Homo sapiens: one gene and its partners. The protein of the gene in region 3 purifies or fractionates together with the protein of the main gene of each other region. This does not show direct contact. Each region holds a gene or a part of one and is shown on either strand. Other genes may lie near its edges.

The links.
Region 1: the proteins of TUFT1 (region 3) and RABGAP1 purify together in Homo sapiens (affinity purification with mass spectrometry; 4 studies listed by BioGRID and IntAct, with this or other methods). This does not show direct contact.
Region 2: the proteins of TUFT1 (region 3) and RABGAP1L purify together in Homo sapiens (affinity purification with mass spectrometry; 4 studies listed by BioGRID and IntAct, with this or other methods). This does not show direct contact.
Region 4: the proteins of TUFT1 (region 3) and CREB1 purify together in Homo sapiens (affinity purification with mass spectrometry; 3 studies listed by BioGRID and IntAct, with this or other methods). This does not show direct contact.

Annotation. Positions count from the first base shown.
Region 1 is NC_000009.12:122,943,992-122,951,019, forward strand, and holds part of RABGAP1 (rab GTPase-activating protein 1), read left to right. Parts: intron 1-1,340; exon of another isoform or gene 1,341-1,441; intron 1,442-7,028. UniProt on the Homo sapiens protein: May act as a GTPase-activating protein of RAB6A. May play a role in microtubule nucleation by centrosome. May participate in a RAB6A-mediated pathway involved in the metaphase-anaphase transition.
Region 2 is NC_000001.11:174,155,548-174,162,531, forward strand, and holds the start of RABGAP1L (rab GTPase-activating protein 1-like), read left to right. Parts: upstream 1-3,972; 5' UTR 3,973-4,110; intron 4,111-6,984. UniProt on the Homo sapiens protein: GTP-hydrolysis activating protein (GAP) for small GTPase RAB22A, converting active RAB22A-GTP to the inactive form RAB22A-GDP. Plays a role in endocytosis and intracellular protein transport.
Region 3 is NC_000001.11:151,564,299-151,571,326, forward strand, and holds part of TUFT1 (tuftelin), read left to right. Parts: intron 1-226; coding exon 227-316; intron 317-1,864; coding exon 1,865-1,930; intron 1,931-5,358; coding exon 5,359-5,472; intron 5,473-7,028. UniProt on the Homo sapiens protein: Involved in the structural organization of the epidermis. Involved in the mineralization and structural organization of enamel.
Region 4 is NC_000002.12:207,553,940-207,560,967, forward strand, and holds part of CREB1 (cyclic AMP-responsive element-binding protein 1), read left to right. Parts: intron 1-1,688; 5' UTR 1,689-1,696; coding exon 1,697-1,810; intron 1,811-5,182; exon of another isoform or gene 5,183-5,316; intron 5,317-6,286; coding exon 6,287-6,433; intron 6,434-7,028.

The DNA of each region.
Region 1 (7,028 bases), on a different chromosome or scaffold from region 3:
CCAGCTAAAGGAAAGCCTCCTTTGGAGGTCTCATTATTTCCCAGTAGTTTTAACAAGGAATTTTTGAATACAGTTTTCAGAAAATAGTTTAAATTGGTGCTACAGGTGAGTATCTTTGTAAAAACACTGGTTTGCTAAGGTTCTGACATAGGCTGCCCATAATGTTATCTTTGTAATTTCAATATAATCAGGTATCAGTAGACTTCTCAAGCATGTGGAATAAATGAATACAACACACTTTTTTTTTTTTTTAAAAGAGATAGGGTTTTGTTCTCTTTCCCAGGCTGGAGTGCAGTAGTGCTGTCGTAGCTCACCTCAACCTTGAACTTCTGGGCACCAGTGATCCTCCTGCTTCAGCCTCCCAAGTAGCTAGGACTGCAGGCACATGCGACCACACCCAGTGAATTTTGCTATTGTTTGTAGAGACTGGGTTTCACTGTGTGGCCCAAGCTGTTATCAAACACCTGGCCTCAAGCAATCCTCCCACTCTGGCCTCCCAACGTGACAACACTCTTAAATAATCTTTGTTTGTTTCTTTTTTTTTTCTTCTTTTGAAACGGAGTCTCACTCTGTCGCCCAGGCTGGAGTGTGGCGGCACGATATCAGCTCACTGCATCCTCCCAGGCTGGAGTGCAGTGGCGTGATCTCGGCTCACTGCAACCTCCGCCTTCCGGGTTTAAGAGGTTCTCCTGCCTCAGCTTCCCGAGTAGCTGGGACTACAGGCGCGCACCACCACACCCAGATAATTTTTTTTTTTTTATTTTTAGTAGAGACGGGTTTTCACTATGTTGGCCAGGCTGGTCTCGAACTCCTGACCTCAGGTAATCCACCTGCCTCGGCCTCCCAAAATGATAGGATTACAAGAGAAAGCCACCGCGCCCGGCCTAAATAATCTTTCTTAGCAAGACTATACTTCAGGGATCGTTCCTATAGTTTGTTAAATAATGTTTCTTGGAGATAGAACTCAAATATTTAAGAAGTGCTCATTTAAGGTACGTAAAGCAGAATTTGGCATGACATTTTGGTGCTTTGTATGTAGTTACCTTGTTTTACTGAGTTTACATAGTTAGATCCCACTGAAAAAAAATTCAAGGCTCAGGACTTAATGCCCGTGAGTATGCCTGGAAAAACACCATGTATACATCATAGCTGTTGCTTTTTTTTTTTTTTTTAGCATAAACTGGTTACCTAGTCATCCCAACCACCCTCACCCCTCTGTTTTGTGTTGATCCTGAGATCATTATTCTTTAGAAACTTTGTAACAATATTGGATAGACGTTTAAGCTTACATTGTAACCATTCACGTTGACCCTAACAGCCTTGTTTCTCTTCATGTGCAGACTGACCAAATATGGAAGTGTGCAAGTCTTGAACACATTAGTTTATACAATGTGGCCTGAAAGTTTCCCTCCTCTTTCCAAATCAACCATAATATTCTGAGGTACTCAGTGAGAATTTTTTGAAGATTGTTTTCTATCAGACTTTTCCCCCTAAATCCCTTTTTCTGATCACTATACAGTGAAATAAAGCCCTAAACCTACTTTTAAGCTCCTGCCTGACATTAAATAGTATGTATGTATTATCTTGGTTGTAAAGTATGAGAAATATATCTTCTTAATTGTGTACCTCTCCAAGAATTAATGCATAGTTGTTATGTATTTCCTGTTAAGGTTGCATCAGCATTTGTGTTATAAACTACTACTCCTTGGGTTCTGTAAGTCTTTGTGGAAATAAATTTTTCTCTGTACCTAAATCTGGCATTTCTGAAGGTACATTAGCAAGTGAGTTTCTGTGGTAACTTTAACATAATGTTACTAAGTCAAACTTTAACAACAATTTGACTGTTTTAAAACTTTCTCCCTTTTTCCCTTATTTATGCATTTTGGTAACTAACCAACAACCTATGGTTTATAATTTTGTTTTCCATTTTCTGAGGATGATCTTTTATCAGTTAAGGAAATGATATGCAGAATCCTTTGGGAATATATTTTATTTTTTAAGACTACTAAAGTGCAGTAGTGAGAACGGGGAAAAGAGTAGAACAAGGAGTTTGTTCTGTAACTGACTGAACAATCGAGATAACTCACTGTCTTTGGACCAGCTTTGGGAGTATATTTTAACTATCATGAAGGATAATACGAGATAGCATACTGGAAGGCACAGAAAACACGTATCTTCTGCCAAACATTCATGGTTTGCCTACATGCATTCCCCTGAAAATCAAACAGGTCATAGAAAAGACAAATTATATTTCTGCATTTATCTTAGACTTTGATCATCTGTTGAATGATTTGCCTGCTGAGTTTTAAATTCATGTAGATTAAAGAGAAGTGAATAATACATTTTAGATCTGAATGTAAACAGATGCATATTCTAAGTGGAATAGATTCATTTTCTTTATTGTAGATGAGAAGGAACTATATTGACTAATTTCCTAAAAAGAGGAAAAGTCTTTGACTAACCCTGCGTTGCTTAAAAATACTCATATTTTTACATTTATTAAATGCTAATGTAAATTATACTGTAGAAATCTGAACAGTTTTTAAAATCTGTACTAGCAAGTCAGGAATATAATCTGACCTTGTGAATGAGTAGTACATTAACATTAAGCTGACTTTCCCTGTGTTCCCAGGGATAGCTTCTATTGTGGACGTGGAATCCAAATAACAATTTAAATATTTAGTTTCACAGATATTGTGTTGAAATGGCATTAAGCCAGCATATGTAGAGTTCTGGAAAAAATTAAAGTGTGTTTCCTGAAATATCCATGGGAACATGAGAAAACCATTGGCAAGATTTTTTTCAGGTGTCAGCATTATCACACTCATAATTAACAGAGTTAAATGAACTCTGTTTTATGCACATTTCATCCCTACTTGTTACCTCTTGTACCTTTCATTAGAAGTATGAAGTATCAAGATATAGTGGGGAGAGTATGAACTTTGGGGTGAGAAAGACATGGATATCCCAAGTCTCTGAGAAGGAGTGATTAAGTAGCTTATCCTCAGAAACTCCATTTTTAAACATGGAGCTACTTACATCTACCTCATGGAACTGTAATGGAAAACACCTGATATCCCCCCTAAAGACCCTATAAAGTTATAATTATTTTGAAACTTACTTTTATTGAAGGATAAATGTGGCATACATACATTGAAATATTATTCAGCCTTAGGGAAATTGTGACACATGCTACAATATGAATAAACCTTGAAGACTTATACTAAATGAAATAAACCAGTTATGAAATGATAAATATTGTGTAATTCCACTGCTTATATGATACACCTAGAGTAGTCAATTTCTTAGAGATGGAAAGTAGAATAGTGGTTTTTGGAGGAGGAAGAGAATAGGGAATTAGTGTTAATGGGCACAGAGTTAAGAAAGGAAATGTTCCAAGGATAGATGATGGTGATGGTTGCATGACAATGTAAATGTATTTAATGACACAAAATTGTACACTTCCGTGGCTAAGATGGTAATGTTTGTGTTATTACTTAATCACAATGCAAAAAGATTACAACTTATAAAAAAGATGTTTTAAAGTTTTATTTTGTTTTACAATTTCCTGTATTTGTTTAATTCCGATATCTTTTTTAGTTAATGTAGAATTGAACTAAAAGTGATTTAATAGTTTAAAGAAGTAAATTGTCACAGTTACGGTAGGCTCAAATTTGCCTAAGCGTGAGTTTTAGATAAGCTAGTTTTTCTTGCCTTTAAGTGCAGGTAGGCCCAAGATGATTGTTTTGATTCTTTTGGTTTTGGTTTTGGTTTTTTAACGTAACCTGAAATTAATCAGAAAGCTTAAATTATTATGATTCTCTTAGCTCACTAAAATAATTCAAAGAAATAGTCTCAAAATTCAGAGTCAGAATGAAAACAAAGACATCTATTGTTTAGCAGTTAGTAGTGGTGGAAAGGAATTTATTTTTATAAAGAAGGGATGGTGTTCCATTGAGTTTTGTTTGATTTGTCCCACCCTTTCCAGGGATAGGCTGTGTGAAATTCATGTGAAAACCAGTGCAGTGAAACAAAGTTCAGAGCCAGGAAAACACACACACACACACACACACACACACACACACACACACAAACTGAAACTAATGCAATGTGATTTTTTATAGCTTCTTTGTACCCTGCTTGTTTAATTTTAAAGAGCTACAAACCCACAGGAATTATCCTGCTACAGCATCTTTCAGACTTGATTCTTTTGTTGCATCCTGTCTTGTTCTTTTTCTAAACAGAGAGTAAACTCACCAGATTTGTGTTTTAGAAGGGTACAACTGGGAGCAGCATAGAGGATGGATTGGAATTGGGAGAGGATGGAGATAGGGACATCGAGAGGGAGAGAGATGCAATCCAGAAAAGAACAGAGACACCTAGATACTTGGGTTTGGATCAAGTTCCACAATTTTCTCTCTGAACTTAAGCGAGTTACTCAGCCTGCCCAAGCCTTAGTTTGTCTGTCATATGAACTTAATACCCATCTGGCAAGGTGTGAAGATTAGTAATAATGCAAGTAAAACTTGTTCGTACCATGTTGGGCATATAATTGACACTCAAGAAGTAATAAGTATTGTTTTCTCTTTTGATTTAGCAAGATGATTTAGTCATCTTGCTTAAGATTCCCTAAAGCTGTACCCATTTTTTCACTGGTTGAGCAACAAAAATGATGGGGATTGGGAGGGAAGTGGTTAGTGTTTGGTCCAAAGGGAACCCAAGGTATATTTTTTGTGACTGTGTTAACTGTTTTTTGATCATGACAGTTGGGGATTTGATGAAGAGTTTAGTCTTCATCCATGTCCACATCCCCAGTACATGCATGTAGAGTAGCATGTTTGTCATTTGTTTTCCTCATATTACTTAGACCCTACTAGTTAAACAGCCATGAAGTATATTCAACCAACCAAATTTATTGAACACTGCCCGTAAGTAAGGAAATGAAATTACTACGAGTAAAACATAAGACCCCTGTCCACAAGTAGTTTGGGGGACTCTTTGTGCCCGTTATACTCCCAGCATTTGACATGGTGGTTTATACTCAGTAATTGCTTCTGGAATGAATGGATTGATCAATATAGCGGAGTAGAAAAGAAGCGTTGGGCTAGGTGCGGTGGCTCACGCTTGTAATCCCAGCACTTGGGGAGGCTGAGGCAGGTGGATCATTTGAGGTCAGGAGTTTGAGACCAGCTTGGTCAACATGGTGAAACTTCATCTCTACTAAAAATACAAAAATTACGGCTGGCTGCGGTGGCTCACACCTGTAATCCCAGCACTTTGGGAGGCCTAGGTGGGTGGATTACCCGAGGTCAGGAGTTTGAGACCAGCCTGGCCAACATGGCGAAACCCCGTCTGTGCTAAAAATATAAAAATTAGCCAGGCGTGGTGGCGGGCACCTGTAATTCCCAGCTACTTGGGAGCCTGAGGCAGGAAAATCGCTTGAACCTGGGAGGCGGAGGTTACAGTGAGCTGAGATCATGCCATTGCACTCCAACCTGGGCAACAAGAGTGAAACTCCATCTCAAAAACAACAATAACAAAACAAAAACAAAAATTAGCTGGGCGTGGTGGTGCATGCCTGTAATCCCAGCTATTCAGGAGGCTGAGGCAGGAGAATCGCTTGAACTCTGGAGGCAGAGGTTGCAGTGAGCCAAGATCATACCACTGCATCCAGCCTGGGTGACAAAGCAAGACTCTGTCTCAAAAAAAAAAAAAAAAAAGGAAAAAAAAAAAGTGTTGATATTATTTTACTGTGTGGTAAATGCTATAATTCTGTGATGAACTAAAAAACAAAAAGCCTGAGGAGCCCTAGAAGACAATAACACTGCAGAAGGGAAAGGGGGAGGTTGAATACTTGATTGTATCCACTAGGTTGCTGTTGGTGGAGAAAGGCTGATTGCGGAAACAAAAACACATTCCCAGCTGAGCAAGCAGCATATGAAAAGGCTTGAAAGCATTAAAATGCATGACATATTTGTGTATATAGTATGGTGTGACAGAAGAAGATAAGACTAGAATGGAAATTGGCTCCAGATTTTGAAGAACTAAATAATACAAGGATTTTGGATTTTATTGTATTTTCAGTCAGGAGCAATAAATAGTTTTGAGGAAAGGGGAGGTATGGGATATATGATCAGATCTAAGTTTTAGAAATTAACTTTGGGGGCTAAATAATCAATGACTAGGAAGAGTCTAGAATGAAACACTTGTTATAGCCAGGTTGAAAGAGAATAAAATACAAGTCAATGACATGAGGGATAGTGAAGAAGGAATATATTTGGGATATGTTTTAGAACTAAAATCCATTATTCCAAGGGAGGGTGAGAAAAGGAGGAGTCAAGATTTGTTTTGGTTTGGTGTCTTTTTTTTCTTTTTCTTTTTCTTTCTTTTTTTTTTTTTTTTTTTTTTGATGTTGTTTTGAATCTGTGGCTGTTAACCAGGATAGAGAATCTAGAAAGAAGAATCTGCTGACGCGTGGGGATTAAATGGTTTAGTTTTGCAAGGAATTGGTTTTGAGATGACCATAGGACGCATATAGTAGAGCCCTGCTGTGTATTCTCATAACACCCTTTACACACCTCTGTTATAACAAGCACTATATTATAATTACCTGTTTACTGGTCTGTTTTCTCTACCACTGTAAGCCTGTCAAAGGTAAGGAGTGTCTTTTATTCCTCACCATAATTCTATACCTGGTGTCTGGCACATATCAGACTCTTTGATACTGAATAGAAGAAAAAGAAAATATAACACAAATACCCATGTGGAATTCAAGAGAAAAGACAGTGCTAGTGTTATCAGCATACAATAGAAAGCTGTAACCATGTTAGCTAATGAGATAGCCAGTGAAAAGAAGGACGATGATGTGATTTTAAAAATAGAAGAAAAGGAACCTAAATCAGAACTAAGAAAAGATAGTGGTAGGAAATGGATGCAAAAGGATAAGAGTTTCAGAATAAGAAAATGGCCAGCATTTTCATTTACTTCAGCAGGTGGAAGTAAGAAATAATTCTTTGGGTTGTGAAATT
Region 2 (6,984 bases), about 23 Mb from region 3:
TTGTCCAGATTACTCTGAATTTCAGCCCTACATAAAACCGTGAAATAAAAAAGGTTTTCTTCTGTATCTCCAGTTTTACCTGTTACATCTTTCGCTCTCTCGGTGATTTCTCCCTTCCTCCAGTAGCCAGTGCCTCTTTTCCAAATCTTCCTGTTAGTAAAAAAAAAAAAGACTAAAAAATCATGTGATAAACTCATTTATATAAGATTAGTGATTCGAGTCATGAAGTGCTCTTCTTGGGCAAAGTTGATTTAAATAGGGCACAGGATTTAAGTCAAAGTGAAAAAAAAAAAAAGTGTAACGATGGGCTTTCAGGCATCAGGTAGCCCAGTCAGGGAAGGATTTTTTGGTGTGGTCAAATTCCTTTCAAGACCCTGTAAAATCTTGCCAGACAGCTTGTTACCTTTCTATCATTGGAAACGTATCCTTGGAAGAGTCATATAATGCAACTAAAGTTATTTGTTCCATAGTATGCATGGAAAGATTTAGCTTTATCTGTAAGAAATACAAAGCCAAACTCGAACCTTCTTAAAAAGCTGTCAAAATCAGGCCGGGCACGGTGGTTCACGCCTGTAATCCTAGCACTTTGGGAGGCCGAGGCGGGTGGATCACCTGAGGTCAGGAGTTTGAGACCAGCTCGGCCAATATGGTGAAACCCCATCTCTACTAAAAATACAAAAATTAGCTGGGCGTGGTGGTGGGCACCTGTAATCCCAGCTTCTCAGGAGGCTGAGACAGGACAATCGCTTGAACCCGGGAGGCAGGGGTTGTAGTGAACCGAGATTGCGCCACTGCACTCCAGTCTGGGCAACAGAGTGAGACTGTTTAAAAAAAAAAAAAAAAGCTGTGAAAATTTATTGTCTCAGAGGAAGGGGTAGGCTTCAAGCTGGGTTTGAGTGCTTCCATCATGTGTCAGCTTCATCCTCAGGCTGGCTTCCTCATGGTAGCAAAGTGGCTGCAGTAACTATTGGACTCACATCTACCCATCACACTAGCCAGAGTAAGAAAAAGAGCACTTTTCATTTCCCAACAAACACAAGATATGGCCTTCCATGTGACTGGCACCAATTTAGACTCATGTCAGTGCCTATCAGTGAATACTGACAGGTCAAGTGAGAATGGGATTAGGCTGATTATCACAATCACTGTCCACACCTGGAGCGGGAGATGGGCCTAATCAGATCCTTGGCTGTCTTGCAATTGCAGAGGGGTGGAAATATATTCTGGGGAATCAATCAATATAATGCTCACTATAAAATCAATATGATATTCTGTACCATTAGATACCAGTTTAAACTCTTACATTATTGTTCAATGTTTAACTTGTTTCTAATTTTTTTTTTCTTTTTTGTGGAGACAGGGTATTGTTATGTTGCCCAGGCTAATCTTGAACTTCTGGGCTCAAGCAATTCTGCCTTGGCCTCTCAAAGTGCTGGGATTACAGGCATGAACCACTGCACCTGGTCTGTTTCCAATTTTTGATATTACATTTTAAACTAGGAGTTGCAGACATAAATGAGAGAAACAACACTGTAAGATACAATAGAGAATGTAGAGACTTTGGCAAAAGAGAGAATGCATGTCCTGCAGCTGATCGTTATCATGTAATAATGTAAGCTCACTGTTACCAAATCTTCCACTTTTTAAAGAGAAGCCCAAAATGCATGTATAATCTTCTGGTTTTTAACTTTGGATATGTGTTTTTTTAAGCACCATGTATGCCAAACAAAACATGTTTGTGGGTTTGATTTGTACCTGGGGCACCAGTTTGTCATGTTATGAATCATGCTGGAGTATTTTATAACACCATCTCTCAAAGTGAGAGTTTCAGTCCTTTCATGGACCAGGGCTGCTAGGATACGCTTAATGCAAATGAAGCCACAGTGGAAAGAGAAGTGAGCAGCACATACCACATGAAGAATGCTTTGTTATTAATTTTTTATTCCTTTTAGTTTCTCGACTAAAAGCCTGAAGATCTGTTAATAATTTTTTGGCATGTGCTTAGAATTGTTTTTCTGGTGGTAAGGATGAGTTTGCATCAGATCACCTTAATTGTCTTTTATCTAGGTTCTCTCATGACTTGTCTCTTATCTATGTTGTACTGTGAGGAAAAGTTCAGTTTTAAAGAATGACCCCTGTTGATGAGAGGTGTTACATGTGGCCATGGGACAGGATTTTTCTTTTCCTTATAGCAAGTTGGCACATGAAGATAGCATGCTCCACTTAAATAGAAGAATTAACTCGCAGTGGCCAGTGGTGTCCACTATTGCTTTCAAAGACATATGGAACTGAATTTGGGGAACACTAAACTTGTTTTGGACTTGCCATTTTTTTTTTAAATTCTTTTTTAGCTAAGTTACCTATTGAATGCCCATAATTACCACATCCATTGTCCTTTTTTGTCAAAAAGCTTCACTCCAGTTAGAAGATACCTGAAGGCAGAAACTGCGGCTTTGTCAACTGTTGATTTCCTCATGGCGCGCAGTGTAAATTTACTAGTACTTTATTTAGTAGAGGCTTAGTACTTACTGGTTGGCAGATTTATTAATAGTTCCTGTACATCTCAGGAAATCAACAGATGATTTATGTTATTCTAACCCTAACTTTATTAAATATAATAAAAACTTTCAGCATTTATTGTCAGGCCCAGGGCTAGGTAGGCTCCTGAGATACAGAAGTTAATAAGGGAAGCAGCCCAGAAGGTAGGGGAAACAAAAAAATAGTTACAACACTCTTGATATGTCTCAGCATCTATAGACATTAACATCAGGAAAAGCGGGGGTGTGGGGGGAAGGAATTTGTCAGGGAGGGCCCTTTGGACAAATGTCACGTTTCTCAGAGTAGCTTTTAAATATGGGTGGGAAAATGAGGGCAGGGGAATTGAAGTGGGATAGAAGGGAGATATTTAAACTAAAGTCATTCTATGGCTGCAATCACTGGACACTATATTCACTTATCCATGCAATCACATTCATTGAGTGCTTCCTATGAGTTAGGCAGGGTGCACAGTGTAAGATACAAATGAATGATACAGGTTCACAGCGGTTGTCTAGTGGGATAAAATGCTGCACAGGGCAACCTGGATAAGCCTGACATGTTAGGTGCCACAAAACTACAGAACAAAGTGCTAAGGAGATTCGGAAAATTTACAGGTCATTTCTGGTTGCAGGATCTAGAAGAAGGATGTCCACAATTCAAGGATCAGTACAATCTTCGTAGCGAAAAAGCGTTGGTTTATTCTACCTCTACCTAGTTTGTACCTCAACATCTTTTACCCCAAAGGATAAAAAGGTGCAAATGAGGGCACATTTTCTTCATATAATACGTAATGGTGCTTACTTATTGCTTTCCTGTTCATTCCCCGCAGGTGATTTCCCTCTTCAGTCTCCCCCGAGTCTCACAGAAGGAACTAACAAGGGAGCGCTTCACAAGCACACAGACACCTTCAAACAGGCGCAGAAGAGTACTTGGTGAAAAAGTATTCTTTCAGGTGACTTTCCTTAAGATTACTGAGCATTAAGAATGAAAATATGTAAACCAGGTTTACGAGCAAGAAAATAATCTCTCCACATTCAGAGTTAATCTTCCGAACTCAGCAACTGCCAGTAGAACGCACCCCGGTCAGGGCGGGCTCGCGGGCGCGGTCCCACCCCCAGGCCCCTCCGCCGCGGAGGTTCTCCAGCGCCGCCCGTACTCCCGCCTTTCGCGCGTCCCTGCTCTAACAGCTCTGGTTCTGTCAGGACCTCACTCCTCCGCTCCCGGCGCAACCGCGGCCACGCAGCGACGTGCACGCGCGTGTGCGCCGCCGCCGCCCGGCAGAGTGGGCGCCTCCGACATCAGGAGCGCGCACGCCGCGCAGAGGGGCCTGGACGAGCGCGCTTCCGACCCGCCGCCACCGCCTCCTCCCCTCCTTCTCGGCCCGCCCCCTCCCTCGCCTCTTCCTGCCAGGCGGCCCTTCTCCCCTCCCCTCTCAGTTCCCTCCGCCCTCCTCGGGCTCCAGCGGTGGCGGAGCGAACGGGACCGGCCCGGCTTCAGAGCGCGAGGTGGAGGGTGGAACGCGGGCGCCTGAAGGAGTTGTTGTCTCGGCAGCGCCCGCGGAGACGTGAAGAGGTGAGGCGAGGACGGCCTCCTAGGGACACGAGGGCGGCCCGGCGGCCCGGATCCGCGGGCCGAGGCTGCCTGGGTGTGTTGGCGTCGGGCTGAGCCTGGGGAGGGTCGAGATGGGGCCCCAGCCGAGGACTGGGATGCGGGAGGACCGCGGTAAGGAGGGTAGGGGGCGGGTTCAGGACTGTCGGCCGCCTCCCGGACACCGCAGTTCTCCCAGGTGGCCGCTCCTCGCGGATAGGGCGGGCGGGGTCGGCGCCCTTACCTGGGGGTGGGGTAGTGGCTTTGGCGGCCGCCTCCTCCAGCTGTGCCCTCCTGACATTGCTGCCTCGGCGGCTGCCGCCCGCTGCTACGCTGTGGCTGCTGCTGGATTCGCAGTCCCAGCCGCCCTGCGTCCGGTGGGCGAGTGGTTAGGGTATTTTCTTACCCACACGCAGGCTTCTGTACTCGACCATTTCTCTCCCTCGCCCTTCCTCTTCCTCCGCCGAGCACTTTGCTCGGCTCCTGCTGTTGATGCTTGTGGTTTTGCAGTTTGGGATGGGATGCGTTCCGGGCAGATCCCTACCTGTAGGGAATGCCCCGCTTCAAAGTTGACCTCCTGAGCCATGACAAACACCTCCCCCCAACCCCCACCCACCTTGTGAGTGCTCAGTGTCCTGATAACTGAGTCAAAGTTTCTGAGACTGGGCTAGTACTTTGCACTGGTCGCCAACGGTACAGGGCTGGGCAGTGCGTCAGCATGTGGAAAGGGGCCACCGGCTAGCGGGAGGTGGCCGGGTGCATGGGAGCTGAACTGACGGGTTTCAGATACTAGGCAGTGTGTCCAGGTCCTTGGATCTCTCAGATAGGGTTATATTAGAATATGTACCAAAACTTGGGTGGTCACTTGCAAAATTGGTTTCATGCAAGTAAACTGAAATGCCAGCCTTATTACACTAATGGTAAGGAGAACTTTTGCTTGCCTGACAGATTTCAGCGCAGTTTGGAAAATGATTTTAAGGCCTTTATTTTTGGCACTGGAGGGGTTTAGGGATTTTTAATACATTTAAATTTCCTCGTGCATAGTGGGAGGTAAGTAGTTGCTTGTTAAAATTCTGAAAACACAGTTTCATGAAAACCTTCTGACTTTTCTTACAGTAGTGTTTATATTTGGCATCTTCCGTAGAATATCCATTAGTTATGATGTCAGAAGATACGGATGTGAAGTTTGCTTTTTGTGATCACATTGGAAGTGGATTTTGTTCATGGAAAATACTGGTTCACAAGCTCCTAGTACTAGAAAACTGGCCTGTGATTCATTTTCTCAGTAGAGCGTCCCTTATGAAATTGACAATGAGATTTCTAAGGAGAAAGACTAGTTGAACTTTATGTATACATTATCATCAAATTGTATTAAATGTACACCTGCCTGAGGGGTTAGCTCTAGACTTTGAGTTAGACTGGTGTCTATACTAAATCAGTTCAATAAATGCGCTGATATTATGTATTATTCATTTGGAGAGAAGTAGATAAAGCAGGGCAGAGTTTATATTTTAACATATTATGTAGCCTACATTTGCTCTGATGTGTATTATTATTATTATTATTATTATTATTATTATTATTTTTGAGACGAAGTTTCGCTCTTGATGCCCAGGCTGGAGTGCAACAGCGCGATCTCGGCTCACCACAACCTCCGCCTCCCGGGTTCAAGCGATTCTCCTGCCTCAGCTTTTTGTGTAGCTGGGACTACAGGCATGCGCCGCCACGCCTGGCTAATTTTGTATTTTTAGTACAGACTGGGTTTCTCCATGTTGGTCAGGCTGGTGGAACTGCTGACCTCAGGTGATCTGCCCGCCTCAGCCTCCCAAAGTGCTGGGATTACAGGCGTTAGCCACAGCGCCCGGCCTCTGATGTGTACTAGTAAGTCATATGGGGAGAAGTAGATGAAATAGGGTAGAGCTTATATGTGAACATATTATATAACCTACATTGTCCTCTAGAAAGCTGGAAACAAGTTAGTAAGTCTCAGTACTATTGGGGCATATGGTGAATATACAAACCAACCTAAAAAAGTGTGACTGTAAATAGATGAAGTTTGTTTGTTTCTTTTAAAGAGACAAGGTCTCGCTCTGGCGCCCAGGCTGGAGTGCAGTGGCTCAGTCCTAGCTCACTGCAGCCACGAAGTTCTGGTCTCAAGAGATCCTCCCACCTCAGCCTCCTGAGTAGCTGGGACCACAGGCACATGCCACCAAACCTGGCTAATTTTTTGTTTTATTTTTGTAGAGTCAAGGGTCTCACCATGTTGCTCAGGCTAGTCTCCAACTCCTGGCCTCAGGCAGTCCTTGCGCCTCAGCCTCTCGAAGTGCTGGGATTACAGGCCTGAGCCAACGGTGCTTGTCCCATTTTTTTTTTTTTTCACCTGAGTTATTTGATGGGAATTTCTATATATTACAGTTGCGATGTTCTGAGAATTTTTGTTTCTTTGATAATTGTTTCATGATTTAGATGTTTTCTTTTTACGCTGGTAGTTATGATTTTTTTTTCCTTTGAATGAAAGAATTTTATTAGGCATGTGAAACAGGAGTTTTCATGTGATCAGCTCTCCAGTTCTAAATTTGTGACTTTTAAAAAACTTGAATTTTTTTCTTTGCCTTAACCCAAACTTGAATTTGCTCAGCCATTGTATATTTATTTGAACTCTCAGATGATACAGCATTGAAGCAGAAAGTCCTTTTATCCATGCTTTTGGAGTAATCAAAAGAAGGAATTCTGTTGTGCCAAGTAAAAATATGTGTGGGAGATAGCTAGGCTTCAAGAGATTGACTTTGAAGAGAGTAGTGGCTAAGTAGCAAAAATTTCCTATATTGAAGGTGTAGAAGTGGGCCTGCATTCCAACCT
Region 3 (7,028 bases):
TAACATATTACACATTTTACTTATTTGTCTTTTGTGTCTTGTGTCTCCCCAACAAGAATGTCAGCTGTAGCTCCACTTGACCAAGGTCCCTCCCTCCATCCTGCAGCCAGTCGTTAGGACAGTGCCTGACTCGCAGTACAGGCCAGGGATGGGGCACAGAGTTGGGTGAGTTGGCATGCTCTCTTTCTCTACCCTAAAGCTCAAGTTTCTTCCCCTCCCCTCCCAGGCCAGGAACTGCCTACAGAAGCTCCGGGAGGATATAAGTAGCAAGCTTGACAGGAACCTAGGAGATTCTCTCCATCGACAGGAGATACAGGTAATAGGAAATGGTCCATGGTTGGGTCCCCACCGAGGAGGTGGGGTTGTGCCAGGCAGTCTCATTTACCAATTACCCAGTGTGTGCTAAATCTAGCATCCCTGCCAGGAATGGAGAAAATAGAGGTGATGCTGGCTTCTCTGGAGCACTCACAATCTGGTTAGGACTCTCCAGCCGATGAGCACTTACATTTACACATGTCAGCTTAAACATAAGTACACCTGCTCCTGAAACACTGTACAGAAATTGAACTTATATAAATTAAATATCATCAGTTGTTAGCAAACCTCTTATCTATAAGGATTCTGTGATCAAGCTTCTTATAATAATAGAATTTTGTAAAGCAGACAATCACCTGTAAATCCACACTTCTCATAAGCTGATCTTGCTTAGTTTGGGTGATACCTGTAGCGTAAATTGAAGTCCGTGCCCTAGCCTGTTATTAATCTTGTATATAGTTATGTCTAACCTGGGATGGGAAGTTCCTCAAGGTTAGGAGTTCACCCCACCCCACCCCACCTCGTGTCTGTATCCTCACCCTCCCATTCCCCCCAGGTCTGGGATGTAGAAGGCATCAGTAAATGTTTGTTAGACTGAACAGATTGGGTAAGTCTTTCCTGGGAGGGATAATCCTGGGATCCTGCTTTTCAGTTTTTCCAAAACTCGAGGACAGAAATGTCCTCAGGAGAGCAGAGCTGTCTCTTTGTGACTTCGCCCTCATCCTTTAGATTCTGAGTTGTATCCTTGATTTGCATTTTGGTTCAGGCAGAGTCTTGCTCCAGCAGCAGCCCCTGCCTTCATTCCCTTGAGGGGAACAGTGGCCCAGCAGCTGGTGCAAGGAAAGTTCTTTGTCTTGGGCATGCACTTGTGTGGTGGAAATTACCTAATTTTTGCTTTGGCTGAAGGTAGGTCTTTCAGTGCTTGAGCTCACATCTGGCTGGTGGGAGCTACTTTGTCAGGTATCAGAAGAACCTAATGTGTGCAGAGACTGGCCCAAAGTCCAGCCCCCTTGTTTGCACAAACCGGCTGTCATATGATGAATAATCAGGCTTTGGGTCAGAAATAATTGAAAAAGATCTTCCCTTTGTAATTTTTGCTTTGTCAAACTTTATCAGGATCCCTGGGGGCAAGGGAAGCTCTTTGTTTGTGGCAGGCAGCTGCATGTATTCCCTGGCTAAGAAGAATGGGCTACACATACTTTTCCATCTGCTGAAAGATTTTAGCCTGAGGTTTTTTTCATCCTCCCTACAAGACTTTCAAGGCCCTTTCAAGGCCGCATAACATCTCTCCACCCCCTCTTGTTTCTATTTTCTCATGGAACGCTAGAAATCTTTTCTTCTTTCGCTTCGTTCCTTCTTCCTCTTCTCCTTTCTTCATTCCTTCCTTTTTCTCCCTCCCTTTCTTTTTCTCTCTCCCTCCCCCTCCCTTTCACCTTCCTCTCCCTCTCCCTGTCCTTCTCTTTCTAAGATTTGAGTGTTAGGAGAATAATGTTTCAAAGTTGGTTGCTTTCATCTGTTTTAACTACCAATTTTATTTTTCTTTGAACAGGTGGTGCTAGAAAAGCCAAATGGCTTTAGTCAGAGTCCCACAGCCCTGTACAGCAGCCCACCTGAGGTAGGTAACAGAGGACACCATGGTGGCTCCGCTTAGCCAGGGGCAGGATTGCCTCCTCCCCATCCTTTTGTTTATTGCTTTCTCTCTCTCTCTCTCTCTCATTAAATACAAGAGTAGTAGTTGACATAAAAATTCAAACACAGAGAAATACAAAGAGTAGAAATTCTCCTTCCCCAATCTCTCTCCTTGCGAGTATCCACTGTTAACAGATTGAAGTGGGTGGATCTTTCTAGGGCAGTGCTTCTCAGCCTCAGCTGTTCATTGGAATGGCCTTGCAAGCGTTAAAGGATATGATGCCTGGGTCCCATCCCTAGAGCTTGTCATTTCATTGTTCCAATAGGTGGCCTGGGCATCAGGACTTTTAAGAGCTCTTCAGGTGATACTAATGTTTAGCTAAAGTTGAGTGCCAGTATTCTAGAATATTTTTATATACATAGACAACCATATTTAAATATCATGTATATGTTATATACACACCATATATACATGATAAATATATGTATATAATATACATGTGCTTTTCTCAACTATAAGATCATGGTAAATACATTATTCTTTGCTTGCTTTTTTTTTCTTAACTAAAGAGTATATTATAACCTTCTTTCCATGTCAGTACATATAGATCTACCTCATTCTTTTGAATAACTACATAGTATTTCCTTCCATGGCTGTACTTGATTGATTGACTGATTGATTGATTGATTGACTGACTGACAGAGTCTCACCCTGTCACCCAGGCTGGAGTGCAGTGGCAATCATGGCTCACTGCAGCCTCGACCCCCGGGGTTCAAGCAATCCTCCCACCTCAGCCTACCCAATAGCTGGGACTATAGGGCACGCGCCATTATGCCTGGCTAATTTTTGTAGAGATGGGGTTGCCCAGGCTGCTCTTGAATTCTTGGGCTCAAGTGATCTGCTTGCCTCGCCTCCCAGAGTGCTGGGATTATAGGCATGAGCCACTGTGCCTAGCCTACTTTTTAAATTTTTATAATTATTATTTTTTGGGACAGGGTCTCCCTATGTCATCTGAGCTGGAGTGCAGTGGTGCAGTCATGGCTCATTATATTCTCAACCTCTTGGGCTCAGGTAGTCCTCCTGCCTCAGCCTGGGAGGGACTGTGGCAGCCACTATAGTGGCTGGGACTATAGACACGTGCCACCACACCTGGCTAATTTTTGTATTTTTTGTAAAGACAGGGTCTCATCATGTTTCCCAGGCTCATCTCAAACTCCTGGGCTTAAGTGATCTGCCCACCTCGGCCTCCCAAAGTTTTGGGATTATAGTCATGAGCTACTATGCTTGGCCTCCATGACTGTACTTTATTTGTTATTTTTTGAGATGGAGTCTCGCTCTGTCACCCAGGGTACAGTGCAGTGGTATGATCTTGGCTCGCTGCAACCTCCACCTCCTGGGTTCAAGCAATTCTCGTGCCTCAGCGTACTGAGTAGCTGGGACTACTGGCGTGAGCCACCACGCCTGGCTAATTTTTGTATTTTTAGTAGAGATGGGGTTTCACCATGTTGGCCAAGCTGGTCTCGAACTCCTGACCTCAGGTGATCCTCCCACCTTGGCCTCCCAAAGTGTTAGGATTACAGGCGTGAGCCACTGCACCCCGCCACCATTACTGTATTTTTAAAAAGTGTGTTATTATGTTTTTTTGTGATTATACAATACAAAACATTCATATTGTAGAAAATTTGGAAAATTCAGAAACACAGGAAAGTGAAAGAAGAAACAAATATCACTTGTAATCTACTCAGAGAAAAACCACAGTGAAATTTCATCTTTCCCCGAATGCAAATATATATTTACCATGTGAATACATTGTACAGTATGTAGCATTTCTTTATAATTTTTTTTTTGTTTCTTTAGTTGGGTATGTTTTTGCATTCGGTGTTTTTGGCCCTCAAGTATAGGTTGAATCAGACCCACCCATTAGTTCATGACACATCATCCTCATGGGTCCTGTCAAGGCCTCTCACTGGTTTCAGTTTTTTGTTTTTTGTTTTTTTTGCCTCTCCACCTCCTGCAAGAGAAACTCACTCTAATGAATTCAATATATGGCTTTAAATATGCCTGTAAAATGTTCAGTATACATGATGAACTTGTGCTATATCTTCTTCCCTCTTTGTTCTTGTTTTCCCTGGTACCGTGTTTTTTAGGATCTATCTACATTGCTGTATTAAAATCTAGTTCATTGCTTCTGCCTCCTACATGTACTTTTATAACTTACTTTTTTGCTTCATGTTATATCATATGATGAAATAATATTTTCATGAAAGTTTTCCATGTCATTAAACAGTCTTATGAGAACACTCTTTGAAATAAGTGCATAATAGCTGTGTTCCAGGAACCTTTTAAAGGCCATTGGCTCAGGTGAGGATTTAGGGAAATTGACTGGATAACTCATGACATCTAGATTTGGAATGCTGTGATTCTAACCACTTGCTTTAGATGGGCAGCTTGGACTTTCTCCTTCTTTTGAATCACCATATTTGGCAAATACATTGTTGGCAACAAATTATAATAACACCTGGTAATATCTGTTTGGCCTCTTTCTTCTCACAAGCTCAAAGCTGTACCGGATGTTATCTTACCTAGTTTTGAGGCAGCCTGTAAGGCAGGGTGTGGTAGGGAGTGTACTGACTGCCTCACAGATAAAGAAATGAAGGCCCACAGGACTTCACTTCTTCATTATCACCCACAGGATGATGATGCAGAGACTGGGACACTGTCTTCCTCCAGTGTCTGGTGCCTGTGCAGCAGAGACGGGGGTGAGACCCTACATGTTAGCTCATCTCTAACCACCAGCCCACAGTTGGGTGTGTCTGGGAGAGACTGAGCAGTTACCTCGATGAGACACCTTTTTCCACATCGAATCAGATTCGTGGACTCATTGCATGCTTTTGCCCTAAACCTGTCCATCCATCAGTAACCCTTTATATGCTGCTGTCAGTGCCAAAAGCTGAGAATGGTAAAGGATGTGCTTTTGGACCACTCCCTTTGTGATGGGCGCGACATAGTCCCTGTCCTGTGGGAACTCTAGTCCAAAGGGGAACATGGTCTCTGCTCTCAGAGAGCTGTAGGCAGATAGAGGGAAGCAGGATGCACACCTACAGACAGCATCCACATATTCACCAAGAAATCGATTAGTGGATACATACATGAAATATTACTGAGCATGTCCTAAAATAATTGGGTGTTTTGAGGCTAGCAGGGTTCTTTAGGGTATGAAGGGACAATGTTTCATTGAATAACTCAGAATTCCTGGCTGCCTAAGGTAACTCTCCCCTTGTGTGATGACAGTTCTTTTTTGAGGGTGGTCTGGACGAGATGGTCCAAACCAGTGTGTGCCTGGGAGGGGGGACCTTTTCTTACTGAGTCAGAAACTTGAGGGCTTCCCCTTCCCTTCCTTGTTCTGGCTGTAGGTGGACACCTGTATAAATGAGGATGTTGAGAGCTTGAGGAAGACGGTGCAGGACTTGCTGGCCAAGCTTCAGGAGGCCAAGCGGCAACACCAGTCAGACTGTGTGGCTTTTGAGGTGAGATTTGGGATTTGGGGAGAAGGTGCCCTAAGGGATGGGCTACTGAACACAGGTGCCAGTGATGTCTCAGCTTGGACTTCCTGTCTTTCTGGCTGAGTGCCACAAACTGGAAAGGCAAGGCTGTGAAGCCTGGAACGCTTGTCTGCTTTTCCCTCTCCTGGACGTTTACACTGTTTACTGTCCAAGGCCAGCCCATAGTTCAAAGGTCAGCTCGGGATTCTCTGCTCTGATGAGTTTGAGGGTGGTGCCCATCTGGGGCAGCCGGTGATTCAGAAGTCATTTCTGTCTGTGTCGTGGTAAGAATCCCTGGGCTCTTGAGACTCCGTGCAGGCAAGGACTGCTGCTGACATGTCACCCCCGAGTCTCCAGTGTCTGGTGCAATACCTGGTATTAGATAGGTGCTTCATAAACGTGGACTGGATGAGTGACTAAATCTGTGTTGTTGTAGAAAGAACTGTACCCATCGAGTTGGAGGATTTGGGCTCTAAACTCAGCTTTGCTATGCAGAGCTTTGTGGTCTGGAATGAGTATCTTTTTTTCACTCTGCTGCCAAGCTGGAGTGCAGTGGCGCAATCTTGGCTCACTGCAACTTCTGCCTCCCGGATTCAAGCAATTCTCCTGCCTCAGCCTCCCGAGTAGCTGGTACTACAGGCATGCGCCACCATGCCCAACTAATTTTTGTGTTTTTAGAAGAGACGGGGTTTCACCATGTTGGCCAGGATGGTCTCGATCTCCTGACCTTGTGATCCACCTGCCTCAGCCTCCCAAAGTGCTGGGATTACAGGCACGAGCCACCATGCCCGGCCTGGAATGAGTATATTAATTATTGTTATAATACAGAAATCTATAAATGGAGAGTAAAAGCCCCCTACTATATGTGAGGTCTTCCATATTTTCTAGAAAATTCTTTGAGTATAAAACAAGGTACATGGGCAGTTTTCTTTCTGTCTTTGGAGACAGGGTCTCACTCTATTGCCAGGCTTGAGTGCAGTGGCATGATCTTGGCTCAATGCAACCTCCATCTCCCGGACTCAAGCCATCTCCCACTTCAGCCTCCTGAGTAGCTGGGACAACAGGTGCACACCACCATGCCTGGCTAATTTTTGTGTTTTTTGTAGAGACAGGGTCTTGCCATGTTGCCCAGGCTGGTCTCAAACTCCAAGGCTCAAGCAGTCTGCGTGCCTTAGCCTCCCAAAATGTGGGGATTACAGGCATGAGCCACCACACCTGGCCCATGGGCAGTTTTCCAACTGCTCTGTGTGAGGTTAACCATCTGTTACCTGCTTTTGTTCTTCCACAAGTAATGTATTCTTTGTGTTATAAATATGTTATGATAGGGTTATAGCCTGCCTAGGCATGCTAGGAGCTGGTAAAAAGAGAAAGGCCAGCTTGAACTCTTCATTTTCATGGAACTGAGAAGGAGAATTTTTGAGAAGAGGCTTGGCGGTGAGGAGGAAGGGCACCAAGGATGATAAACTGCTTCTATGTTAGCCGAAGTATTATTTGAACAAGTAGTTTAACCTCTCCAAGCATCTGTTTCAACTTTTGGAAAA
Region 4 (7,028 bases), on a different chromosome or scaffold from region 3:
CTATTTTACAATGTGTCAATATATTAATTTTTTTTCATGGTTACAATTTTGTAATGGTTCTCTTAATGATGGATAATTGTTTTCAGGGGTTTTTTTGCTATGATTTAAAAAATTTTACAGTGAATACTGTTGAGCTACATCTCTGGATATTACTATCGATTATATGGTCAGTGCACTTGTGGCTTTATGAATATTTTAAATAATGTAGTCAAGTCTGTTGATCTTTTTCCTTGTCATCTGTGTTTTGTGGATTTTGGTATTTCCAAACTATATTCATTTCTACAGAGTTATTTTCATTTCCATTTTTTGAACTGTCACTTGTAAAACACTTTCTTTTTATAGAACCTTATGAGTGATAGCAAGATGTATTAGTATGTAATACATTGTGATGGAGTGTAATGATCACAAGGATCAGTGACAGTTTTGATGACCAATTTCAGAGTTATAAAATAAATGAAATATATTCTGGAAAAGTCATGGGCTTTTTGTGTTGTTTGTGGAATCACTAAAGGTAGTCCCTCACTATTAACAAATTTGTTTTGACACATAATATGTGAGGCACTGAATTATAATAGGCACTAGAAACATTGCCTATTTTCCTGAATCCTTTAGACAGGATTGCTTCCCCAGTTACCAGAGATTTCTCTAACCTTGATTTACAGTAGCTACTGCTGGTAGGAATTGCTCTCCACTCCACTTTTGCTGCCATCCAGTGTTACATTACCCTACAAATATACTAAGTGCTTAGCAAAGCAGAGTCCAAATGTAAGATCAATTTTTGTCTTACCCAGAATTTTACAATTAAAATATATAAATAAAAGATTTCTCTGTGTGTGGATGTATGTGTACAGTATAGTGTTGCATGCTATACATGGGGTGAGGTATCAGAATGCTTTTTCAGTGTTTGGCACCTCTAATTTGGCTCTGTGGCCATTTATTCCACCTTTCTACCTTGAAATTCCACAACTTGGGCTCTTGAAATTACCTGGTATGGTGCAATGCACGTGTATTCTCAGCTACTCCAGAGGCTGAGGCGGGAGGATCACTTGAGCCCAGGAGTTTGAGGTTGAGATTGAGATGAACTGTGAGAACATGCTACTGCACTCCAGTCTGGGCAACAGAGCAAGACCTCATCTCTAAAAAATTTTGGGCTTGAAACGGGCTGATTTTGTCCTACCACTAGTAATCACTTTTAGAAGTAGCTTACAATTGCTGTTTCTTCCTTCTTATGGGGGGAAATACCCTTATAGGAGGTATTATGAAGCCAATATCTAATAAACTCTGTCATCATTAGCTCACTTCCACTCTTCTGCCATCTCTCTGTACCTGATTAGTATAGTTTTGAAAAATTATAATTTTGCTACCACTGCACCTCTCCTTGTTAGTAGGGGAGATTTATGTAAGAGAAGAATCTTTTATTTCTAGACAAGGTAATATCCCATTGGGAAGAAACAGCCAAGGGAGAAGAAATGTTTTTTTCTTCTTTGAAGGGACTAGAACTTTTATAGCTCAGCAAATTTGAATAAGTTTGATGGTAATTCAGCTACATTATATTTTAGCTAGATTTCTGAGTTCATTTGGTAACCTAACCACCACATATATACCTATTTATAACTTGAAATTTGCCTTTAAAGTCACGAAAGCACAAAGCACTGTGGTGCTTGTAACACTCTTCCATATTATTATAGGTAACTAAATGACCATGGAATCTGGAGCCGAGAACCAGCAGAGTGGAGATGCAGCTGTAACAGAAGCTGAAAACCAACAAATGACAGTTCAAGCCCAGCCACAGATTGCCACATTAGCCCAGGTATAAAATACATGGAGAGATTCCAGTTTGTGTCTCTTCCTAGAGGAATACGTTTCCAAGAGAATTTAGTTGTTATTACATAGATATACATAGAATGAGCAGAGATACTCTTACAATATCAAAATTCCTATTTACTTAGTATTAGAGTATATTTAGAAATGATAGTATTAATTCAATAACAGTAAAATGTATTATTAAACAATAATACAGTATTTTTAGTGAAATGATCCAGAAATAATTACATTTTAAACTTATGGGTAAATGGTGCTCTCAGATAAGGGAAGAAAACCTTGGCTATGTATGACAACTGCTTTTTTTATTTTTTTAATATGACACAGATTTATTTTTTAACAGTGGGAATGCAGATAATATGAAAGCCTAAGTTTATATAACTAAACTAAAAATTAGGATAAGCAAATAAATTGACATGTAAGGAAATTTTAAGGATGATAGCAGTTTTTGTTTCCTGTATATTTTAAATATAATTTCTGATTCTTTCATTTCATCTTTCTCTTTAACATCCTATCTTTAAGAATATTTTCTCTCATTCTTATGTTTTTGTTTGCATGCATTCTCCTCAACTATTTTATTAACAGCTGTTTACATAGATAGGAATGAGAAAGGTGGTTAACTTAAAAAACAAATAGCAGATACAGACCTGCTAGGTAATAGTGTGATACCGTCTCTTTCAGATGAAGGTTCCCAGGAGAATATAATCCTAGCAGAAGCTCTGATATATGTAGCTTCAGTTTCTCCAAGAGTTTAAAAGTTCCTAGAGAAGTCACCTAGCAAGAATGAATCATGGGAAATAGAGGACTCACCACACTTGGGTGTCTGGCTGAGGTAGTGTGAGCCAGATACTGGATTTCCAGCAAGAATATAGTCAGAAGGAGTGAGCTGTTCTGTGTTTTCTCCTAAGACCACCAGGGTTTACCTCCAGCCTTCAGGAATAAGACAAAGCCAAATACATCTAATGTACTCATACGAGGCAGGCTGCAGGATTGAAGGGGAGAGAGCCAGGACTTCCATCAATATAGGGTCAACAGATAAGAATCTGGGCTCATCTGTATATTTTGCCCTTTAGAAAGAGGAAGACACAATGCTAGGCCGGGCGCTGTGGCTCACGCCTATAATCCAAACACTTTAGGAGGCTGAGGCGAGCGAATCACTTGAGGTCAGGAGTTCAAGACGAGCCTGGCCAACATGGTGAAACCCCATCTCTACTAAAAATACAAAAATTAACCAGGCGTGGTAGCACACACCTGTAAATCCAGCGACCTTAGAAGGCTGAGGGAGGAGAATTGCTTAAGTCCGGGAGGCAGAGGTTGCAGTGAACTGAGATTGCGCCACTGCATTCCAGCCGGGGTGACAGAACAAGATTCCCTCTCAAAAAAAAAAAGAAGATGCAATGCCAGCAGGCTTCTTTATGATGATAGCCCTTAACACATCTTATCTCTGGAGTCACACTATTTTGTCCAGTCTGGTTGTCCCCAGAGTAGGCTGTATTGTGTCATCCTGGGAATTCCTTTCTCCCTACTTCCATTTTCTCACAGTTTGTGTTTTTGATATGGTAAAGCATGTTTTTCAGTGGTTTTATGAGAAAGAAAGGTTGGCTGAGTAAAGATAGCATGTTATAAAAATTGAATGTATGGGCCGGGTGTGATGGCTCACACCTATAATCCCCACACTTTGGGAGGCCGAGGCAGGCGGATCACGAGGTTAGGAGATTGAGACCATCCTGGCTAACACAGTGAAGCCCGTCTCTACTAAAAATACAAAAAAATTAGCTGGGTGTGGTTATGGGCTCCTGTAGTCCCAGCTACTCGGGAGGCTGAGGCAGGAGAATGTCATGAACCCGAGACCGCACCACTGCACTCCAGCCTGGGTGACAGAGCGAGACTCCATCTCAAAAAGTAAATAAATACAAATAAAAATTGAATGTACATGTGCCTTAACATCTAGAAGATGTACAACAAAAATATTAAAAGTGATTAGCTATGGGTGATAGGAATATAAAGGGTTTTTATTTTATTTTTTATATCTGTATTTTATAAATTTATAATGAGAGGAGCCATTATATAAAATTATTAGTGTAGAAAAGGGATTATTCATTGAGTTAGCTAGGTATATTTTCCCTAGAGAAGACTCAGGAAAGAGAACATAGTAATTGCTTCAAATATTACAAGAGCATTTATATGGAATTGAGATGAGATACTCTGAATAAGGTTATGGTTCTCAAACTTCAGTGTACGGGAAAGTATGATTGGGTTCCTGTTAGAGTTGACTTTACAGAGTATCCTGTGTGACTCTAATGAAGCTATTCCATGGACCACATTTTGAGAATCAAATAAAACTAAGCAAGATTTATAGTGGCCAGAGAGAAAGTGATTAATAAGTAAGGACTTTATTACTATCCAGAGATGGAAGCTTCTGGTTTTACCCTATATGCCAAAGACACTGTCTTTATAGGGATCTTCCCCCCAGGCTTCACAGTCACATATTTCGCTGCCTGCTAAAATAAACATCTCTACAAATTCAGATGTCAGAGTAGTTTCATCATCTTCCATTACAACCCCAGTCACCCAAAAGCCTATCCTTACTTCTTGCATTCTCTTTTTCAATTAAGGACAGTCTGCCAATTCTCTTTCAGACATGAAACATTGGGTCATCTGCAGTTCCTCTCTCACCTCTTTTAACTATTCATAAAGCCCTTTCTGGACTGCTTCCAAATTTTCATAAAATCACTTCCCTCGTTCCCATCTCTACTACTACTAACTGCCCTCTTTTTGGCCTTCATCATCTTTCCTTAACTACTTCATGGGCTTTCTTCGTTGGTCTCCCCACCACCAGTTTTCCCCCTGAAATATATATCTTTCACACTGCCACTAAAGTGATTTTTTTTTTTTTTTTTTGAGATGGAGTTTTGTTCTTATTGCCCAGGCTGGAGTGCAATGGCGCGATCTCGGCTCACTGCAACCTCTGCCCCCTGGGTTTAAGCAGTTCTGCTTCAGCCTCCCAAGTAGCTGGGATTACAGGCACCTGCCACCATACCTGGCTAATTTTTTGTATTTTTAGTAGAGATGGGGTTTCACCATGTTGGCCAGGCTGGTCTCGAACTCTAGACCTCAGATGATCCACCCGCCTCGGCCTCCCAAAGTGCTGGGATTACAGGCGTGAGCCACATTGCCCGGCCTAAAGTGATCTATCTAAAAGCAAACATCACCATGGTATTCAGGAGTTCAAAAGCCCTTCAGTGGCTTCTGCAATACCCTCAGGATAAAATGCAGTTTCTCTGAGGTGACATAATACAGGCTTTTTGTGACTAGCACATCTAGCCCCACCTGCCTCTGTTGTTTTCTCTCTCCCTACTTCATACATCATACAGTAACACACTTATGTGCACCATTGGTGCTGAGCTGCTGGTTATCCCACTCTGCCATGTGTGCTGTTTCTCTTTGCTTTTGCCACTACTCCACTCTGTGCTTGAAATTCTGTGACTCTTCCCTGTAAGTAATAATAACAAGTCTAACTTTTTTCTTTTGTTTTAAATTCACATTCTTCCCTGATAGCCTCCCCTTCTCTTAGGTTGGGTAGAGTAATTCTCAGTGTGTCCATTTTTCTTTTAGCAAACCTCATTACTAAACTGAATTGTATTGTGTCTCTTTTCCCCATTCCTTCGCATACATACCCCCAATAATTTATTTGAGGTCAGAGACCCCTATCTTTCTCACTTTTGTAGTTTCAGTTCTAACATTATTCCTGGAACATAGGTCCCCAATAACTGTTTCCTGATTTAGCAAATAAAATTCCTATCCTTGAATGTGTTCAAGCATAGGAGCAATAAATAACATCTGATAGACATGTATGATTTAAGGACCCTTTTAACCTGGGTATTGACTCATTAAAACTGCCTTAGTTCTAGACTTAGTAGGTCAGGTTTGCTTATGCTTGAGAGCAGTTAGATTTTAGAACGTGACTTATTTAACATGATATTCTTTAGAATTTTATGTTTCTTCAAGGATAGTATATCTGTTGACCTTGGGTGAACACTTAATCTCATTGAGCAGTTATTTGTGTTTTTAAAAATGGAGATCCTTATCACCCAGTCTTCAGTTTCTTCAAATAGCAAAATCAGAAATTGGAAATGAAAGCAGGTGGGAAAATGTAAAGTGCCATACAAATAAAGTGATATCTCATGTTCAGAGAGTCTGTATTACATATTTGGTATAACATGGGAATAGTTTTTAATTTTTTGTCACTTGGGAAGAGCTGAAAAGGATAGGGGTATAGTTTTTGGTGTTTTTTATAGTGTTTTTTCTTAAAGAATATTAAATTTAGTCATTACTTTCATATCAGTGAAATACATATCTAGCAAAAAGGTCACGTTTTTGCTTCTAAAAAGTTATTTCATATTGAACATGAGTACTGCCAAAGAGTGTCTGGGATGATAATTCTTTTCTGTGTTCAACACCATAGGTATCTATGCCAGCAGCTCATGCAACATCATCTGCTCCCACCGTAACTCTAGTACAGCTGCCCAATGGGCAGACAGTTCAAGTCCATGGAGTCATTCAGGCGGCCCAGCCATCAGTTATTCAGTCTCCACAAGTCCAAACAGTTCAGGTATGTGTATAAAAAGTTCTGCATCTATTTTAATAACTTTTGTTTATAGCCATATCTCTCTCCTTTCACTAGTTATGAAAATAAGGACACATCTAGTTCAGTTTATTTTATTCACAGTATAGGAATATGCTGCATCTGTATAGTCACCTTATGTATAGGAACATATATACAGAAGAACAAACATAAAAGAAAATGACTAATTTCTTAAGCTGCAGAGGAAAAAGAATTGATTGGGGAAAATAATGAAGTACATGAGATAAAGTGGAAGTGTTTGGGAGAAACTGTAGGACTGAAGTACCTCAGTCGAGGAAAATTGAGATGCAAAAATAGTAACTAATTTTCTAAATCTGCAATTGGAGAAAAATATACCCTTGATCAAAAATTAATAACCTTACCTAAGATATTATTTGACCTTAGAGATTACATAAAGCATTTGTAAAATCAGCTGTGCTTAGGGTTTTCAGTTACAGTGTGTAACTTTGAAATAATATATTCAGAGGTTACATCTTAAGGGTCAGGAATTATACTATGCATGTTATCTAATTCTTTGGAGAGATCTTTCCTTTGGGTTTGATCCACAGGTAATAAAGGCACT